Linked DNA regions of Homo sapiens: region 2 is linked to region 1. Evidence: fine-mapped expression QTL. A gene starts in region 1. The other region holds a variant in brackets. All regions are shown on one strand. Distances are from middle to middle. Region 1 holds the start of KLHL31 (kelch like family member 31). Region 2 has its middle 29 kb from the start of KLHL31.

Evidence for each region. PIP is the estimated chance that this variant, and not a neighbour inherited with it, causes the effect.
Region 2: its variant is the best candidate, but not a certain one, in a credible set for the expression of KLHL31 in testis (GTEx, PIP 0.53).

The regions. Positions count from the first base shown.
Region 1 is chr6:53,663,891-53,668,290 of GRCh38, forward strand. It overlaps KLHL31 (kelch like family member 31), which reads right to left and starts at 1,866. Exons shown (of 3, transcript NM_001003760.5): 1 at 1,711-1,866.
Region 2 is chr6:53,692,103-53,696,502 of GRCh38, forward strand. No RefSeq gene overlaps it. Among named protein-coding and RNA genes, the nearest start is that of KLHL31, 29 kb to the left of the region's middle. The variant A/G (reference allele first, on the strand shown) is at 2,143.

The DNA of each region.
Region 1 (4,400 bases):
GAACGTCCAACCTATCAGGATTTCAGTATAATCAACTGTCAAACAAGGAGATGCATTACTTTTGCTTCTATAATTTTGCAGACAGTTATGAATACACAGCTGACTTTTGCTGTCAGAATTGTCAAAATCTGTTCCTACATTAAATCTCCCTGTAATATGGCCTTCCATATCTTTAGAATCTACTCATTATCAGATAGGGATGAACGAACTGAGACAAGGTTTCTTTACATGGGATCTATATGTCTGGGTCTGAACAGCTAGATTTAGCAAATAAAAATACAAGATGTCAAGTTGCATTTGCATTTCAGATAAACTATGAATCATACTTTAGTATAAGTATGTCCCAGGCAGTGTTGAGGACATACTTATGCTAAAAGTTGATTTGTAGCTTACCTGAAATTCAAATGTAGCTGGATGACCTGACTTGTATCTGGCATTCCTGATCAGGGCTGGGTATCAGGTGAGTCCATGAGTCCTGCGGAATAGTCTGAAACATACTGTGTGCATATGTTTATGTGTACTTTCCACACACTGGGCTCAGCGTTTTCATGAGATCCATAACCCGAAATAGATCCAAAATGACTGGACTGAGAATAATGCTGCCAAGCAATGGTACATAATTGGACCCTTGTCTGTAAGTGGGCAAGTCCATGTGAAAGTATTGCACTTAAATTCTTCCTGGCCCCAGCTGATCCCAGATGAAGACCCCCAGAACTGGTTATAGAAAAGAGTTGTTACTTCATATTTGAGAACATTTTCCTTCCCACTGCCCTGCACCCATGCTTCCTGGGAGTCCACAACAGGGTAAACTGGAAAGCCATGTGTGCTAAAGTGTCACTGTCACTCTCATGCCAGTATGAACTGGGATCCCAGAATGTCTTTTTGCCAAAGGGGCGAATCAGCTGCGCCTGCTCCCTGTCCTGGCCACATTCCTATCGCTGCATCTGTCGGGGCTCATCAGCCCTACCTCCAGGAATAGAAACCCTCCTGGCTTCTGTGGCTTGCCATTTTAAGTCCAACCTCGGGGTGGGGTGTAGGGGGGTGGTTTCCACTTCACCATTACACTTCCAACATGATTTTTAATATAAAATATATGTCAGCATAATGATATGTGCACATTTAAGACAAAAACCTATTTTTTAGCCAAATAACAAATTTTTTTTTTTTTTTAGGAAGGATATTTCCATTTCATCAATAGGTTATATTTCTGGGAATTCAGAGTTGTCTGAGTTTTGTGCTACAGATTTAGTTAAAACTGGTAACATTTCATCCAAACTGATCAGTAACAAATGTTAAAATGATTCTTGATAAAAATAAAGGTAGAATTCTAAACTTTGTGAACAAAGCCTAAGAATTTTCTCTCCTTCTCCTTCTCTATAAAGTAGTGAAAGAAAAATATATCTTAAGCTTTAGAGATTTAGAATTTTTGTTAGAAATTACAGGTGGTTTTACATTTGTAGGGCATCATTGTCATGCATTTTGTTACCGTGAAGTTCTCCTAACACGTTACATTTCTCAGATTTCAAAAAAATGTTTTCTGTCTCCCAACTTCAGATTAGGGACATGAACCACCTGACCCAGCTGTAGACTCCCTTCAGTAAAATAGCTCTACAACCACAAACACTCAGCCCACCCTCTCCCACCCACACATCCACACACACCCCAGGATCTAGAAGGCAGGAATTGGCGACTCTGGTCCCAGCTCCTTACCCTCCTTGGGTGAAGTGGCAGGTCAACTTGAGATGATGAAGTTTTAGCAGGAGACTCCTCTTGGGAAGGGATCTGTGGAGATAGAGAGAGGGAGAAGGAAAATCCGGTGGGGAGCCACCAGCAGCCACCTGACAAGACCCGGCTGCAGCAATTTTTAGAGTGACCCTTTGCCGTCCCACTGGATAAGGCAGGCCGAGCCTGCGCTTTGGCCCGGGAGCAGAGCAGCGAGCGCCCTCCTCTCCGTCTTTGGCCTTCAACTCTCCAGCCAGCCGGGGGCAGGGGGCGGGGCTCCGGTTGGTGGAGAGGGGTTGGGTTTCTTGAACTGACCAGCTGCTCAAAATGAAAAAGAAAAGAAAAGAAAAGAAAAGAAAGAAAGAAGGAAAGAAAGAAAGAAAGAAAGAAAGAAAGAAAGAAAGAAAGAAGGAAGGAAGGAAGGAAGGAAGGAAGGAAGGAAGGAAGGAAGGAAAGAAAGAAAGAGAAAGAAAGAAAGAAAGAAAGAAAGTCAAGAGCTCAATCAACCTGTGTGAGAGGAAAGAAAATTAATTCGATGGATGTTTAATTGTTGGAAGCAGGGATTCTAGTAGAGTAAGGAGAAGGGAAGGCTGTGGATTAAAAATTAGTTTTTGGAAAGGTAATTAGCCTGGTCACCTACGGTCTTTTGAGAAGATAGTGGTTATAAATAGCCTATTCTTTATAAGAGGAGCACGTATCTACCAGATATGGTACTTTCTACAGCACCTCACATGTGGTTCTAACATTATTAGGCTCATTTTAGAGTTTAATAAAGTGAGGTTTATGGCCAGCGATTTTCCAGTGATCACAGAGAGGTCTGAGATTAACACACACTCTAGCACACATGCAGGTTGGGAAATATCTACTTTGGCAACACTTCATGAGAAAAAAAATTCAATGATTATAATTGACTACAAATTTTAATGGGCACCAAGAGTGTGAAATGGTTGCTTAAAAAGTTAACATGATATTAAGCTACAATAATAGAAAAATAGATCATGGAAAATAAATGTTCTAATTATTCTTCATTAGTCAGATGATGTGTTAAGCATCACTTTGCTATCTTGGCACTCTGAGAACTTACTCTTCATCCTACAGAGATGGCTGGAACAAAAAAACTTCAGAGGCGGTGCATGTTGGAAACATCTGAAGAGAAGTATGACAAAGAGAGGACTTTTAAGATAAGTGAGACACCTGAGAGCAAGTGTTGTGGGGGCTGTTGTACAGCAAGAGGATTCAGTCAAAATTTCTGTAGCCTAAAATGTCAAAAATTTTAATGTGCAGTAATTCCGGGGAAATACCTTAAAATAAAGAAGAAGAGTGCAGATAACAGCTGGGCTCTAATGATGAAAATGGCAGCCTTGTAAAAGAGCCAGTTCTCTATAATTAGAAGGGTGGAAGTAAAAGAAGTTGCAGGACTGGTGTGACATTGAAGGGACTCTGTCTATGGCTGGGGGCTTGCACTGCATCATCTCTGAAATCTTTCCAACTCTAAGGCTCTGATTCTATATGTGCCAGTCTCCAGTTCACCTGAGACTCTCAATTCACTGGATAGCATCTGTCTATTGACTACTTCTGCTGGAATTCCCACCAATTTTTTAGTAGGAAAAACTATTTGGATTTTTTTTTTAATTCTTTGCTTCTACCCATAGATCTCCAGCACAGAAAGCGCCAGGAGCAAATCAAAGAAGCTTCTATTATGGTTTGCTTCTAAGAAATTCTACTTGGTCCCACCTCCTTGACTCAGGTAAAGGGTCAGAACCTTCCATCTTTGTTTGTTTGTTTGTTTGTTTTTTGTAGAGACAGGATCTCAGTATGTTGTCCAAGCTGGTCTCAAATTCCTGGTCTCAAGTGATCTTTCTGCCTTGGCCTTCAATCCCGTTTTAATTGTAATAAAAGTCAGCCTTATATCAGTATTTATGATAATGATGATATAATGATGGAAAGGGCCTTCAAGAAGATGTTGGTACCAATATTATCTTCTTCAAGGGTTCAAGACTATTAATTCCAGTTTTACTGGAACATCACTGAGATGCTCCTTTCAATATAATATAATGTTAAGATATGAACACAAGTGGAAGAATAAAAGGCAAAAAATGGAAAATCTAAGACACTTTAAAAATCATTTTCAGAGTAGCTAGTCTGTGTAACCATTCGACTACTGCTATGGTAGATACACTGGAAACACAGCATGGGACAGTAGGTTGTAGTGAATATTAAGAAATTTTGTCTTTGTCTTTAAAGCAATGAGTCTACCAATTGGAGCATATTTAATAAAAAAGAGGGTCATGATGAGATTGGCATTTTAGAATGAACATTCCGTAATTTGGGGATGTAACCTTAATGGAATTTAGATTTGTTTCTATTGCTAGTGCCTGTCTCTCTTCCACCAACCTCCTGATACTCTCTGCCATACAGCCAGTTCAAATGTAAGCTCCATGAAGGCAGGGATTTTTATCTGTCCTAACAGCAGACTTTCTCTCTTGGCTTTGATGAAGCCTAGTGCCAGGTTGGAGATGCCCAAGCAAGGAACATCCAGTTAGAAACTAAAGCCTTCAGTTCAATATCCCAAAAGACAGGAATCCTGACAATCATCATTTAGTGAACCTGGAAGTCAATCCTTCCCCAGTTAAGCCTTCAGATGAGGCCCCAGCCCTGTCTAACATCTTGATTGAAGC
Region 2 (4,400 bases), 28 kb after region 1:
GTAGCTTAGATTACTGATTAAGTAGGTTCCAATTTAAGCTGTTTTAAACAACCACACTAAAATTAACCAAATAGCTATGTTACTTTAAAATAGTGCCTGAAACATATAGGCAATCAATAAACATGTGCTCGATGGGAGAATAAAGCTTTGATATTTATGAGATAAGCAGGGAGATACAATGAGAAGATTGGAAGAGCTATTGGATTTAATGCCTGTGACTTGAGGTTCTGCTAATACCAGCCCATGTGAAAACAGCATTCATTCAGTTCCTCAATCCTAATACCCAACAGTGATTCTGAATGACTCACTTTCTTCCCCCAACCCAACAATCTTTCAGCAAGTCCTGCCAGGTCTACCTCCAAAATATAACAAATTTGCCTATTTTCTCCAACTCCACTGCCCCAGACTCCCTGCTGCCATTCACACGCACTTAGCAGACACATAGAAAGTTCCATGTCATTTCTCTGTTACCTTCCTCCAGTGGTCCTATTGTCAGGGTCCGCATAGCCCTTCATGATCCGATCTCTGCCTCCTTTGCTCACCTCCTTTTGTGCCTTCTCCTGTCTTGTCTAATGCATTGCAGACATACTGGCCTGGTTTTTTTCCTCAAACATGACCTGTGGCCTTTGCATTTGGTGTTCCCTGTGCCTTGAATATTCCTTGTATGGCTTGCTGCTACTTCTCACCCAGGTCATGGCTCAAATATCATCTCTTTTGAGATGCCCTCCCTGGCCTCCTTAGTCCATGCTCAATCACTCTTCATTGGACTAGCATGCTTTACTCTCCACAGAGCACCTACCACAATCTGCCATTCTTCGTGTACTGTGTCCCTCTAATACAGTGACCTTATCTGTCTTATTCATCTCTGTATCCCCAGCACTTACTTTTTTCTCAATTAATAGTTGTTGAGTGAATAAAGTAGATGTTACCTTTTCTCTATTGTTTTCTTTTATTTGGATTGCAACCAAAAAAAGTCCGAGAGGGCCCCATGTGGCACTTGGTAGGAAATCGAGATCACCTGTTCCCATCCCTTTACTTTGGGATGGGGAAGCAGATGCTGGAGTTCCACGTGACTTGCTCGATGTCACTCAACCCACCAGGGAAGAGTCCAGAATAAAGCCAGGTGTCATGATTGAATCTGGCTCCCTCTTTACAAAAACTGTGGGCAGAGCCAGCTCTAAGACAGTCGGATTTTGTGGCTAAGTAAACAGTAAAAAGGAATGTATGATAAAAGGTGGAAGGAGAGGCAGAGGAAAAAGCATCTATAAGACCTCTTAAAACAACAGGGATGGGTGAAAAGATCGTGTAATAAATAAAGGAAACTATGTGTGTGGTTCTATGTCATGTACCCCACAACAGACAATGTATGTAGAGAGGGTGTGGTGGTTGCTGCGGGACAACAGAAATGGAAGGCACTGGACCAGCCTCGGGAGGGCACACCCTATCTGCAACATTCACATTCACTTCCTAAATGCTTTGCTGGACACATGCTAACATTTTTAAGGGGTTGGATTCAGCCCATAGAGCCCGTGAGAGAATCCTGACTTAAATCCTCAAATTTGGGGTTGATGCTTGGGTAACATATACCACATCTATGATGAATTTAAATTGTGGTCCAGTGCTGAGCAGGAGAGGCTTCTAAGTCGTCTTTTCTTTCTCTCAAAGTCTTGCCCAGGATATGGCAAATAAGGGACTTAAAGTGACTCAAGCAAAGATAAGAAGAGAAGGCTGGCAGGCTGGGCACGTGTAATCCCAGCACTTTGGGAGGCTGAGGTGGGAGGATCACTTGAGGTCAGGAATTTGAACCAGCCTGGCCAACATAATGAAATGCTGTTTCTACTAAAAATACAAAAATTAGCTGGGTGAGGTGGCGACCACTTGTAATCCCAGCTACTTGAAAGGCTGAGGCATGAGAATCACTTGAACCCATTAGATAGAGGTTGCAGTGAGCTGAGATCATGCCACTGCACTTCAGCATTGGTGACAGAGCAAGAGTCTATCTCAAAAAAAAAAAAAAAGAGAGACAGAGAGAGAAAAGCAATGTGGGCTCTCCACAAACACACCTGTGCACACATACCCCATTCTTTTTCTCCATATGCGCTCCAGGCTGTGACAGATGATGTCCGGGCCCTGAAGACTGTC[A/G]ATTACACTAGGAAGAAGTCATCGTTGGTCTCAGGTGGAATCCCAGAATTTATAATTATATTAGGAAGGAATTCCAGGATTAGGTTGGAGAGCAAGGTCAAGGGAAAAAGTCAGGGGCAAGGGTTCTCAGGCATTCATGTCAAGGACGGCTATAGTGAGAGGAATCAAAAGAGTAGAATGTCATTAAATAGAGGAATCAAAAGGGTAGAATGTCATTAAATAGAAAACCCTGCCTTACAAAGGATCTTTGGAAGGTGAGTACATTATTTATGTCTCAGGGTTCCGTCAATCAGTCTACTTTCAGTAAGTTTTAACTTATTCTCCTTATGTAACAAGCTCTGCGGAGTCTTCCAGATAAAAATAAAACAAAAGCAGCCAAACAAAAGACCTTTACAAGGGGCCCACTGAAGTAGAACTAGCTTTCTTTGTAGGTCAACCTGACCCCAGAGGAATTTTCTGAAAAATAGCAACACAGGATCCTTAGACCTGGCTTATTTTTGATGGAAAAATGTTTAGAGTACAATAGAATGTCCTTTAACTTATTGCCCTGGTTACCAATGATCACTGCTGTTAGTTAAATTTCAATTCGATTAATAGAAGATGAATGTCTTTAATAAACCGGGGCAGTACAAAGGAGAAAAGTTAAAGAGTAAAAGGTTGCTTTGTGGCAGGAGGAGCTGTTTGACATCCAAAGTTTCCTCTCCTGCCCTACTCCCTTAAATAATGCATACGCTAGCTTTCTGGTCTTTGTTCTTTACTTGTATCACCTATTTGACAAGGTAGATAAGATTGCAGGCTCAAAGACCAGTGAAGAGGCTGTGCACTTGGAAGAGTGGCCTGTTATGGGGTTCACATTAGAGCTCAAGAGGAAGGAAGAGGTACCCATGGGAGAGCAGCCTGACTCAGGGTGTTGAGGCCAAAGCAGGGTGAGGAGGGTGCCCATGCAGTGGCTGGCTCAGTGCAGGCCATCAGGGCACAGGTAGAGTGAGGAGGGCTCCCACTCACCAGCGGGGTCTAGCGTGGATGTGGCAGCGTGGGGGTGGCGTGAAGGGAGCATATGTGGTAAGAGAAAGTGGCAGCAGCAATAAGAACTTGGTGATAGGGAAGGATTGATTAGGTAAGTAAGCAGATCAGGAATAATGGGTGCCAGGTTTCTCATTGTCAGTGAAGGGGGATATAAATATGGAAAGGGAGAAAAACAGAATGAACCCTGTGGTGTTTGAATAGAGTTGGCATTATTGGTGTAAACTTATTTTGTGTGCATGTGCAGATAACGAGATAGAGCTCTGTGTTTACTGAGAGCCCCGTAGCAGTGGCACTCTTTTAGCAAGAAGGCTCTAAATTCTACTAAAAGGAATCACGGTTCCTTGGAGAAATGGCTGATTCCAGAGCCATTCTGGAATCCAGAGCTGTATTTCAGGAAAATATAGGTGTAAATAACCACTTTTATATATTCAGTTTTTTTTTTTTTGAGATCTCCCACCACGAGAATGCTCTTGTACCAGAACAGCCTGTGCTCTATGTGTTTTGCTCTGTACCTCCAGCTTAGCACACAGTACGTTCTCAGTACAAATATTTGTTAAGTGAATAAATGAATGAATGAATGATATGTTTACTTTCATGTTTTATATGCTTACTTTTAAAACACAGAAAGCTTCAGAAAACTTTTGCCTTAAGTCATTGTGAATTAATATCTCCATGCTTAATATTTTAGCAGAAATTTTATTTTCAGCCAATTTATTACTATGACCCAGACATTGAACCTGAATAAGTCTCTATTGAGTATGTTGAGGGAATAGGAGAGGTACACAAGGCAAGATGTTTTCCTTTCCTTATAAAAGCATTGGGAAATTCTCTAAAATTTAATTTTAGTGGTAAGTTAAAGAATAGCTTAATTTAATTTTTCTATTACTCAGTTATCAGTCTGGGTCAAGAGATTTCCATGGAATTTTTTACATGCTCAACTCTTGCATATTATTCAGAAATCTTTTGCTTTTCTTTGAAAGTCAACTGTCCATTGAATATGGAAGTGTACTCAGACAACAGACAAGTAGAGAAACTGAACCGAAGGAGCCAAACACAGAAACTCTCTTCTTCCTCCCTGCATTCCCTGTCTGGGTAATGGCACCAGCATCCGTCTGTCACCCAAGACAGAAAACTACTGGTTGTCATAGGATCCTCTCTCTTCACAGACCTCGTGCCTCCCACTAAATACATAATACACAATGAAGCCTGACATCTTATCATTCTTACCTCCT